Homo sapiens: one gene and its partners. The protein of the gene in region 3 purifies or fractionates together with the protein of the main gene of each other region. This does not show direct contact. Each region holds a gene or a part of one and is shown on either strand. Other genes may lie near its edges.

Evidence for each region.
Region 1: the proteins of RMND5B (region 3) and ARMC8 purify together in Homo sapiens (affinity purification with mass spectrometry; 4 studies listed by BioGRID and IntAct, with this or other methods). This does not show direct contact.
Region 2: the proteins of RMND5B (region 3) and UBE2H purify together in Homo sapiens (affinity purification with mass spectrometry; 2 studies listed by BioGRID). This does not show direct contact.

The regions. Positions count from the first base shown.
Region 1 is NC_000003.12:138,190,222-138,193,972, reverse strand, and holds part of ARMC8 (armadillo repeat-containing protein 8), read right to left. Parts: intron 1-3,751. UniProt on the Homo sapiens protein: Component of the CTLH E3 ubiquitin-protein ligase complex that selectively accepts ubiquitin from UBE2H and mediates ubiquitination and subsequent proteasomal degradation of the transcription factor HBP1.
Region 2 is NC_000007.14:129,841,244-129,844,994, forward strand, and holds part of UBE2H (ubiquitin-conjugating enzyme E2 H), read right to left. Parts: intron 1-3,751. UniProt on the Homo sapiens protein: Accepts ubiquitin from the E1 complex and catalyzes its covalent attachment to other proteins. E2 ubiquitin conjugating enzyme that transfers ubiquitin to MAEA, a core component of the CTLH E3 ubiquitin-protein ligase complex.
Region 3 is NC_000005.10:178,133,878-178,137,628, forward strand, and holds part of RMND5B (E3 ubiquitin-protein transferase RMND5B), read left to right. Parts: intron 1-1,292; exon of another isoform or gene 1,293-1,335; coding exon of another isoform or gene 1,336-1,435; intron 1,436-3,751. UniProt on the Homo sapiens protein: Core component of the CTLH E3 ubiquitin-protein ligase complex that selectively accepts ubiquitin from UBE2H and mediates ubiquitination and subsequent proteasomal degradation of the transcription factor HBP1.

The DNA of each region.
Region 1 (3,751 bases), on a different chromosome or scaffold from region 3:
CTACAAAGTGATTCAAAGACAATTTGTTACCTTACCTCTCTACCATTACAAAGTGACCAAAATTAAATGCAACCATCCTTTTAACAGGGTCTTTCACAGAGCGTAAGTTTTCATTTTGGTAAAGTCCAATTTATCAATTTTTTAATAAGTAATGCATTTGGTGTTATGTCTAAAAGTTATTCACCAAACCTAAGGTTCTGCAGATTTTCTCCTGTTTTATTCTAAAAGTTTTATTTTATGATAAAATCTATGATCCATTTTGAGTTACTTTTTGTATAAGGTATGAGATCAAGGTTCATCTTAAATTGTGGTTAAGAGGATGAAAAGGCAAGTTACAGATTAGGAGAAAATATTTGCAAATACCTATCTTACAAAGGGTTCAGATTTAAAACATATAAAGAGCTTTTGGCTGGGCACGGTGGCTCACGCCTATGATCTCAACACTTGGGGAGGCCAAGGTGGGCAGATCACCTGAGGCCAGGAGATTGAGACCAGCCTGGCCAACATGGCGAAACCCCATCTTTACTAAAAATACACACAAAAAATTAGCTGGGCGCGGTGGCACACGCCTGTAATCTGAGCTACTTGGGAGGCAGAGGCCCGAGAATCTCTTGAGCCTGGGAGGCAGAGGTTGCAGTGAGCTGAGATCACACCACTGCACTCCAGCCCGGATGACAGAGCAAAACTCTCTCAAAAAATAAGATAAGCCGGCGCGGTGGCTCACACCTGTAATCCCAGCACTTTGGGAGGCCAAGATGGGCAGACTGCCTGAGGTCAGGAGTTTGAGACCAGTCTGACTAACATGGTGAAACCCCATCTCTACTAAAAATACAAAAATTAGCCAGGCATGGTGGTGGGCATCTGTAATCCCAGCTACCTGGGAGGCTGAGAGAGGAGAATCGCTTGAACCTGGGAGGCAGAGGCTGCAGTAAGTTGAGACCAGGCCATTGCACTCCAGCCTTGCCAACAAGAGCGAAACACATATCAAAAATAAAATAAAATAAAAATAAAACCTATAAAGAGCTTTTAAAACACCACAGTAAAGAAGCAAACACTCCAATTAGAAAGTGGGCAAAAGGACATGAAGAAATATTTCACCAAAGAGAAAACATGGATGGCAAATAAGCGAAGATTTTCAGGCCAGGTGCAGTGGCTCACACCTGTAATCCCAACACTTTGAAAGGCTGAGCTGGGAGTATGGCTTACACTTAGGAGTTCCAGACCAGCCTGAGAAACATGGTGAAACCCCGTCTACATGGCCAGGCATGGTGGCACACACCTGTAGTCCCAGCTACTTGGAAGGCTGAGGCAGAAGGATTGCTTGAGCCCAGGAGACAGAGGTTGCAGTGAACTGAGATCACGCCATAGCACTCCAGCCTAGGTGACAGTGCAAGACTGTCTCAAAAGGATAAATAAGCCTGTAATCCCAGCACTCTGGGAGGCCGAGAAGGGTGAATCATGAGGTCAGGAGATTGAGACTATCCTGGCTAACACAGTGAAACTCCGTCTCTACTAAAAATATAAAAAATTAGCCAGGTGTGGTGGCGGGCACCTGTAGTCCCAGCTACTGAGGAGGCTGAAGCAGGAGAATGGTGTGAACCCAGGAGGCGGAGCTTGCAGTGAGCTGAGATCACACCACTGCACTCCTGCCTGGGCAACAGAGGGAGACTCCGTCTCAAAAAAAAAAAAAAAAAAAAGGATAAATAAATAATAAAAATATTCTCAACATTATTAATCATTAGGGAAATGCAAATTAAGACCATGATGAGATATTACTACACATCTACTAAAACAGCTAAAATAAAAATAATAACAGTATCAAATGGCAGTGAGGATACAGAGAAACAATGTCTCATATATTACTGGTAGAAATGTAAAATAGTACAGCCACTCTGGAAAAGTTTGTCAGTTTATTTTAAAATTAAACATGCATTTACCATCTGATCCTGCAATTGCACTCCTGGGCATTTAGCTCAGAGATATGAAAAGTTATGTCCTTACAAACCTGTACATGATTGTTCATACTACGTTATAATAGCCAAAAACTAGAAGCAACCAAAACGCCCAACAGGTAAATGGTTAAACGAGCTGTGGTACATCCACACCATGAAATACTACTTAACAATAAAAAGGAACTACTGCTACATACAACAATATGGATAGATCTCAAAAGCATTATACTGAGTGACAAAAAACAACCTCAAAAAGTCACATACTGTATGATTCCATTCATATGACATTATAGAAAATGACAACATTATAGAGATGGAGAACAGATTATGGTTGCCAGGGGTTAGGGATACCTGTTGCGGGGAGAGGCTGGGTAGGTGGGACTATAAAGAGGGAATATGAGGGAGATCTTTGCGGTGACGGAATAGTTCTGTATCTTGACAGTGGTGGTAATGGTAACACAAATAAACATGTGATAAAATGATACAGAAACAGATACATACTTATACCAAGATCAATTTCCTTGTTTTGATACTATAATGTAACTATATAAGATGTAACCTATGAGGGAAACTGGGTGAAGTGTACACAGGGACCTGTCTGTACTATCTTTGCAACTTCCTGTGAATCTATAATTATTTCAAAATAAATGTTTTTAAAAATGCAATCAACATAATTCAAAAGTATAGAAAACATTGCAGAAATTTATGAATTTGTTGAAAAGGGTGATGTTGTAATGTTAAATGCAAACCAAAGAGGGATGGGGTGGTCATAGTGCAGTCTAGAAACAGGGCTGGAGAGTTTGTCCAACCCTCCAAAATAGATAGTTCAATCAAACATTTACTGAGTACCTAGGATTTGCAAGACAAAGTGTTACTTCTGAATTAATTTACTCTCTAATACGACAAGATAGAGTATTATTAAAGACCTCTGCAAAAGCAGTTCCCTTTGCCTTGTATGCTCTTCTTCTGTCACTTTTTCTAGTTAGTTCTTACTTATCCTTGAACTTTCAGCTCAGCATCACTTCTTCAGGGAAACCTTCCCTAGTTCTTCCTATTGCCCTCCATATTAGATCAGTTTCCTCTATGACATGTTTTGAACAGCACCCTATATACTTCATTCATAATACTAATCACCATTCACAAACTGTGTGATTATTTGATATCTATTTTTCCCACTAGGCTAACATTTCCAAAAGGACAGAGGTCTGTGTAGCTTACGGCTGTATTCCCAAACTCAACACCATGCTTGCCTAGCAAATGGCAGAAGCTCAAAGTAGATGTACAGAATATATATATACAAAGTTAAAATTCATATGTACAAATGAGTAAGAAGAATAAGATTTACTGGAGTTTGGAAGAATTCTGTATCACTCTAACCTGAGAAAGCCGGTTTATACAGGATAGCAGGTTCATGTAGAAGATAAAGAATCTCGGCCGGGTGCAGTGGCTCACACCTGTAATCCCAGCACTTTGGGAGGCCAAGGTGGGTGGATCACTTGAGGTCAGGAGTTTGAGACCAGCCTGGCCAACATGGTGAGACTCTGTCTCTACTAAAAATACAAAAAAATTAGCCAGGCATGGTAGTGGATGCCTGTAATCCCAGCTACTCAGGAGACTGAGGCAGGAGAATCGCTTGAACCCCGGAGGCGGTGGTTGCAGTGAGTCGAGATTGCGCCACTGCACTCCAGTCTGGGCAACAAGAGCAAAACTCCATCTCAAAAAAAAAAAAAAAAAAAAAAGATAAGAAAATAAAGAATCTCAACTCTGAAGCTGAATATAAACTTGGGCCTTTGGGCAAA
Region 2 (3,751 bases), on a different chromosome or scaffold from region 3:
AACAAATCGATGTGGCTGTATTCCTATAAAACTACATATACAAAAACAAGTACCCAAGGTCTGCCCAACTTTGCTCTAGAAAATCTTACCTATAAGAGGTGGCTCTTATCACTGTAAGGTTAAGAAGCTGAGCAGTTAGAGACTAATCTAGAGCTGTGTTACTCAACCGAACTTTCTGCAGTGATAAAAATGTTTTATATGTGCTCACCTAAACCAATAGCCACTAGCCATAAGTGGCTACTGAGCACTCAAAATATGGCCAGTGTGAATAAGGAAATTAATTTTCAGTTTATTTAATTCTAATTAAATTTAAATAACCACACATGGCTAGTAGATCCTGTATTGGACAGTGCAGGTCTAGAGAATGATGGGCTAGAGGGTCCCATGACAGCTACCACGTCCTGTTCTCACACACCAGGTATTGACACAGAGCAGCTCTGCCTTACAACAAAAGCCACAGACTTGGGGTGATTTCATCAGAGTCTATTTCACCTTCATAAGGCTGACTTCAGAACGGTCCTAAAGAGCCACTTTATAGTAAGGTTCTCATGTACCACGAAAGAAATCCTGACACTCCTAATCAAAAAAGCAAAACAAAAATCACCTTCCTATATAACCCCCAAACTATCTGCAGTAAGATTTTCACCAATGTTTTATCTACAATTTTTTTAAAAAGGGAAACAATTATTATGGTACAAAACCATTGAAAACTATTTGTTTTCAATGAAAAAAATGCTTATACTTGAATGCTGGGTAGAGAAAGGCCATAAAATGGTATGTTTTCTAGAATTACAACTATGTACAGTGTGTATGCATAAGACAAACATTTTAAAAAGCTACCTCAAGGCAATAGATGTGTAACTTCTACTTTTCACATTTCAAATGACATTTCTTTTGCCTTTAAAAATCAACATTTTTGGCTCACACCTGTAATCCCAGCACTTTGGTAGGCCAAGGTGGGTGGATCACATAAGGCCAGGAGTTCGAGACCAGCCTGGCCAACATGGCAAAACCCTGTCCCTACTAAAAAATACAAAAAATTAGCTGGGTGTGATGGCGCGTGCCTGTAGTCCCAGCTACTTGGGAGGCTGAGGCAGAATTGCTTGAACCTGGGGAGGTGGAGGTTGCAGTGAGCCAAGATTGCACCACAGTACTCCAGCCTGGGCAAGTGAGTGGAACCCTGTCTCAAATAAATAAATAAAATAAAAATAACATTTTCCTGTAAATATGTCCTTTCTATTTTGGCATATGTTTGAAATATCCAATAAAACATGAAAAGTCTGAAAATGTTTTTATTTTCTTATCTTTATCCTTGGGTGGGTGAGTTATTAAGGCAGTGGTAGAAAATGCCAAAAGGTAAGCAAATTCAGTTTTACAGGCCAGACGCAGTGGCTTACAACTGTAATCCCAACACTTTGGGAGGCTGAGATGGGCAGATCACCTGAGGTCAGGAGTTTGAGACCAGCTTGGCCAACACGGTGAAATCCCGTTTCTACTAAAAATACAAAAATTAGCTGGGTGTGGTGGCAGGTGCCTGTAATCCCAGCTACTTGGGAGGCTGAGGCAGGAGAATTGCTTGAACCCAGGAGGTGGAGTTTGCAGTGAGCCCAGACTGCGCCATTGCACCGCAGCCTGTGCAACAAGAGCAAAACTCTATCTCAAAAAAACAAAAATAAAAACAAAAAACAGTAGTTTTACAATTGAATGTGATCCCATAGCAGGGAAAAGTTAAACAATAGTTACATTAACAGTAATTTTTTTTTTTTTTTTTTTTTGAGACAGAGTCTTGCTGTCAACCAGGCTGGGGTGCAGTAGTGTGATCTCCACTCACTGCAAGCTCCGCCTCCTGGGTTCACGCCATTCTCCTGCCTCAGTCTCCCCAGCAGCTAGGACTACAGGCACACGCCGCCACATCCAGCTAATTTTTTTGTATTTTTAGCAGAGAAGGGGTTTCACCGTGTTAGCCAGGATGGTCTCGATCTCCTGACCTCGTGATCTGCCCGCCTCGGCCTCCCAAAGTGCTGGAATTACAGGAGTGAGCCACTGCGCCCGGCCCATTAACAGTAATATTAACAGTAATGGCAGGTTAATGCTTACATAGTGCTTACTACAAGCAAGGAACTCTTCCATGGTCTGCATATACACTCTTAATTTCACTACAGTCAATGAGGTAGGCACCATTTTACAGATGGAGAAATTGAGGCACACAGAGCTTAAGTATGGATCAGGAACTCAAACCTGAGCTCATCCACTATGCTGCCTCTGTTAATGGATAAAACACACACTGCCGCTGCCGCAAATTTCACGAAGGCACAAGCTCCCCATGTCTCTGGGTCAAAATCGCATACCATCGCTGGCAGGGAAGCTAAATCCATGGATCAGAGATGATCACCCTCCTCCCCAAAGAATCCCTCACAAGTGCAAAGAAGCATGCTAAGCAAAGGACGTTCAGATGTTTCTGTGGCTATTCACAGAGACGGTGTGCTTGTTTTCATGCAGCTCCACCGCAGGAGGTAACCCGCAGACACCTGCACACAGCGAACGGAAGGCTCCTCCTGCCATATTATTATTACAGGTGCTGCTCAAAAGGATTAGCAGCTGGATGCTATTACATAACAACGAAAACCTTTAAAAACAAAGCATAGGTTTTATGTTCTGAAGTAATGTTCAGAAGTGCTTCAGGGCTAGAGAAATATCACAGACAACGTGTTATAAAACTAGGAGTTTAGCGTGTCCCAGAAAGAGATTTTATACCCTTTCCTACTACTTTTAAGTTTCCTCAAGCTACCAATAAAAGGCTTTGCCTATGAATTTGTTCCAAACAAATAAAAGAACCCTTAATTATTGGTTCTTCCTTCCTGTATCTACCGTCTTCCTGCATTAACACATTTTTGATCCATTTTACAGAAGTGCTGAGTCACACCTGTAAAACAGAAGAGCAGAAAAGGAAACACATGAGGCCCAGTTTTGGGTGAAGATGACAACTTCGGGAGGCCAGGATGTGATGGCTCTGCCATCTTAAAGCAATAAGGCCTTCCTGCAAGTGGCTAACACAGTGATTACTCCTAAGGGTGCTTCTGAAAGGAGCATCTCTCAAATGTGCAGATGTGCAGAAAGTCTTCTTTCAAGATAAATACACTGGCAGAGAAGACTAAAACTATAAATCAAGAATAAAATAAAGATACTCATCTGTAGAAAAATAAAGAACACTTTTTCCCTAGATTTTTGTTAATGATAAAACGATAAAAATGTGTCGATAATAATAACGATAAAAATGTGTCAGTTCAAAGATCTTTATCTAAAAACATTAACCTTCAATTTTTTTAAAGGAAGAGAGCCAGATACAGTTGACCTAAACCTGTAGAGTACAGTCAGCCGACCCCATTTCCGCCTGTCTTAACTTTTAAAGGAAGTCCCAAGATTCCTGAGTATATGGTTTATGATGAGCAAACAGCTCTTACTTTTGCCTTAGACTCAATTAGAACCAAAATGTGGTTCATTAGCACTGACTCTTCAGTCTGATCTTACATTAATGTTAAAATTATAACACTCATATCTCAGTTTAGGCATATAATTTATATTCATATTTACTATTTAAAAACAGGCTGGGCACAGTGGCTCATGCCTGTAATCCTAGCACTTTGGGAGGCCGAGGCAGGTGGACTGCCTGAGGTCAGGAGTTTCACACCAGCCTGGCCAACGTGGCAAAACCCTGTCTCTACTAAAAATACAAAAAATTAGCCAGGCGTGG
Region 3 (3,751 bases):
ATTTTTTGTATTTTTTTAGTAGAGATGGGGTTTCACCGTGTTAGCCAGGATGGTCTTGATCTCCTGACCTCATGATCCACTCGCCTCGGCCTCCCAAAGTGTTGGGATTACAGGCGTGAGCCACCGCGCCCTGCCCCAATCAACAAATGTTTACTGAGCATCTACCATGGACCAGGCCCTAGTCTGGGCACTGAGGGGGAGAAAGGACAAGACTACATTCCAGCCATCGAGCAGCTCACAGACCAATGGAGGAGGCTGACGTGGACAGGCTGTTACTGTGCTGCAGTAGCTGAGGACTCGATGGGTGTGGTGTGGCCACTCTTGCCAGGTTATGAAGCAGAAAAGGAGGCAGGGAGATTTCACTGAGGGCTCAAGGGGAGGTGATAATTTAACTACAGCTTACGTACTCTATACAAAGAAGTGCAGAGGGCACTCTAAAAATGGGAACAACTTGTGCAAAGGAAGCAAATACATTATTGCAAAGGGTTTATATGTCAACCATGGTAGTGTTGGGCAAAAGGTAACAGGATCTGCTATGTGTTTCGGAGGGTCATCCTGGTGGATAATTTCTGTATATGTGAGACCTTGGGGAGGAAGGCTTAGGACCAGTGGACATGAAATTTCAATCTATTAATCATGAAGTTTGTCAAAGACAAACACAATTCCTTGCGCCTGGTGAAGATGACTGACTGATTCAGGCAGAGTGGCTTGCTCTAGACAGACTGAATTAACCTCCTGCATTTTTTGGATAGAATACCCACGAACAGTTCTGTTTTCTCAGTTCATTTATTTTACTTTTAAAAATTTGGCCAGGTGATTTGGCTCACACCTGTAATCCCAGTGCTTTGGGAGGCCAAGGCAGGTGGATCACTTGAGGCTAGGAGTTCGAGACCAGCCTGGCCAAAATGGCGAAACCCCGTCTTTACTAAAAATACAAAAATGAAAAAAAAAAAAAGCCAGGTGTGGTGGTGCACCTGTAATCCCAGCTACTTGGGAGACCAAGGCATAAGAATTGCTTGGACCCGGGAGGTGGAGGTTGCCAGTGAGCCAAGATAGCACCACTGTATTCCAGCCTGGGCAACAGAGCGAGACCGTCTACAAAAAAAAAAAAAAAATTACTGAGTTAATCACACTCCTCAGTTCATGATACATTTAACTGGTCCATGCAGGGCCTTTTTCTCCTTTGTATTTATATTCCCTTTTGTCCCTATTCTTCCCCTCTCTTCTCACCACAGGAAACCATTCTGATGTGTTTGGTGTATATCTTCTTTTTGTTTTTTGTTTTTTTGAGACAGGGTCTCACTCTTGCTCAGGCTGGAATGCAGTGGCATAATCATGGCTGACTGCAGCCTTGACCTCCCGGGCTCAAGCAGTCCTCCGTCCCACCTCAGCCTTCTGAGGAGCTGGGACCACAGGCGTGTGCCACCATGCCCAGGTAAATTTGCCGTGTTGCCCAAGCTAGTCTCAAACTCCTGAGCTCAGCAGTCTGCCTGCCTTGACCTCCCAAAATGCTGAGATTACAGGTGTGAGCCACTGCTCCCAGCCTATATGCATATACTTTTAATTTACATAAATGGATTCTGCCTAGACCTCATTTTTTTCCACCTCAGTGCCATGTGTGGAGCTTGTCGATGTTGCTCTGGGTATATTTGGGATGCAGTTTCTAAATGCTCCACAGGTTTCCATAGATGCATCCCCCACATTTTACTTACTTGATTCCTCTAGTGATGAGGTCCCTAGATTGTTTCCCACTCCTTGCTACAATGCAATCCCGTACCCATCTCCTTCCTCAGCTTTGTAAATAGAATTTTATCGCTTCTCAGCCTTTTCGCTGAGATCAAGTGTAGTAAATACAATTTCAAGATGCTGATTTGAGCTTGGCTTTGATAAGCCTGGTAGCTCTTGGTGTCTGACAGGGCCGGATTGTTTGACCTTCGTGAGGTCCTGGCTTTTTTGAGCCATGTTTATTTTTGATAAATTGTGATTCTAGTTCCCAGACACTCTTGGCCAACATTCTAGTGTCCTGCCATCTTCCCCAGTTGATCATTCTCACGAGCTCTGTGGTTAATTTTCTGTTTCTCATCATCATTAATGGTTGCTGTACACTCATTCCAACACAGATATTTGCTCTTTCCTTTCCTGGTGAAACAGTGGCCTGTGAAGCTGGTCCTGGGAGTACCTGTGATGTGAAGTACGTAGAGAAGGACTCTGAGGCCAGAGCCAGACTGTCTGGCTTCAGTTCAGTTCCCAGCTCCTCCACTTCCCAGACGCCTGACCTTGGGCAACTGATTTAATCTTTGTGTCTCATTTTCTCATCTGCAAAGTGGGTCTAATCATTGTACCTACCTCATAGTGTTTTCGTGAGCATTAGGTAAATGAATTAATGTATGCAAAGTCATTAGAACGGTGCCTGGCACATAACAGGCTCCTATTTGGAATGTCAGCTGTTAATAATAGCAATAATAATAATTACGTCATTTCAGATAGGAGACCCTGTTATATTTTGCCATAATGGGTCACATTCAGTTGCAGGGTGTTTGTTCAGAGGGGATGGTGGGGGGTGGGTGGCATAGCTTCTGGACTCTCTGACTATAGATTCCAGCGTAATAGCATTAGCTGTAAGGAAAAAGGGAAGAAACACAGCCCCCAAGGCCCTGGGTGCCTTTTCACTGTCACTTGTTGCCTGTCAGGTTGGGAGACAGTGGCTACAGATGGGTCAAGGTGCTGAGGCCGGGACTCATGCTGGTGGGAATGAGGGAATGAGTGAAGAGAGCCTGTGAAACTGGGAGGATCTTGGTGGTCACCTTGGACATAGGATTCTCTTTCTCTTTGATGTTCCTCTGTACCCTTCTTGAGAATGGGCATTGGGCTAGATCAGCTCTGTCACTGACATTCTGAGGTTTGCCCACGTGTTCAGTGTCAAAGGCTGCTCTGAAATGGAAAGGAGCAGTGGCCCAGGGTAGAAAGGACACAGAAGGAAGCCCCAGTGGTAGGGAGAGGAGATAGGACAAGAAAAGTCAACTTTCTTTCAATGGTATAATGAGGAGGGAAGGTTGTGTTGCAGCAAGAGAGGTTCTGGTCTGGTGGGGGAGGCAGGCCCAGTGACCAAAACTGAAATAGAAGGGTGCAAAGTGAGAGTAGAGGGAGCTAGGTGGGCACAGGCTAGAGACAGCTGCTGAAGACGCTGACGTCTGAGCTAACTCAGAAGTGATGGGCCAGCCTCTCAAGTAGTCGAGGAGGTAAGGGTGATGGAGAGCAGGCCAGGTGAGGAAGCAGCATGTACCAGGGCACGCAGCTATGAGACAGCAAGGGTTCTGTGCCTGTCCTCGGGTGTGCGGCGGGTGAGGGTGAGGCAGGAGTGCTGGGCAAGTCCGTCAGGCCAGCATGGTTGGCAGTTATTCCCCAAGCTGTGTTTCCAAATATCAGCCACTCAAGGACGGCCTTTATGGTTTATGTTACTATAGTACGTAGAAAAGCAGTTCCTCTAACTGTAAGAATGTGGCCATAATAACTCTATGAAAATACACGGGCCGGGCATGGTGGCTTATGCCTATAATCCCAGCACTTTGAGAGGCCAAGGTGGAAAGATCGTTTGAGCCCAGGAGTTTGAGACCAGCCAGGGCAACACAGAGAGACCCGTCTCTACGAAAAAAAATTTTAAATTAGACAGGTGTAGAAGCACACTCCTGTGGTCCCAGCTAGTCAGGAGGCTAAAGTGGGAGAATCCCTTGGGCCTGGGGGGATCAAGGTT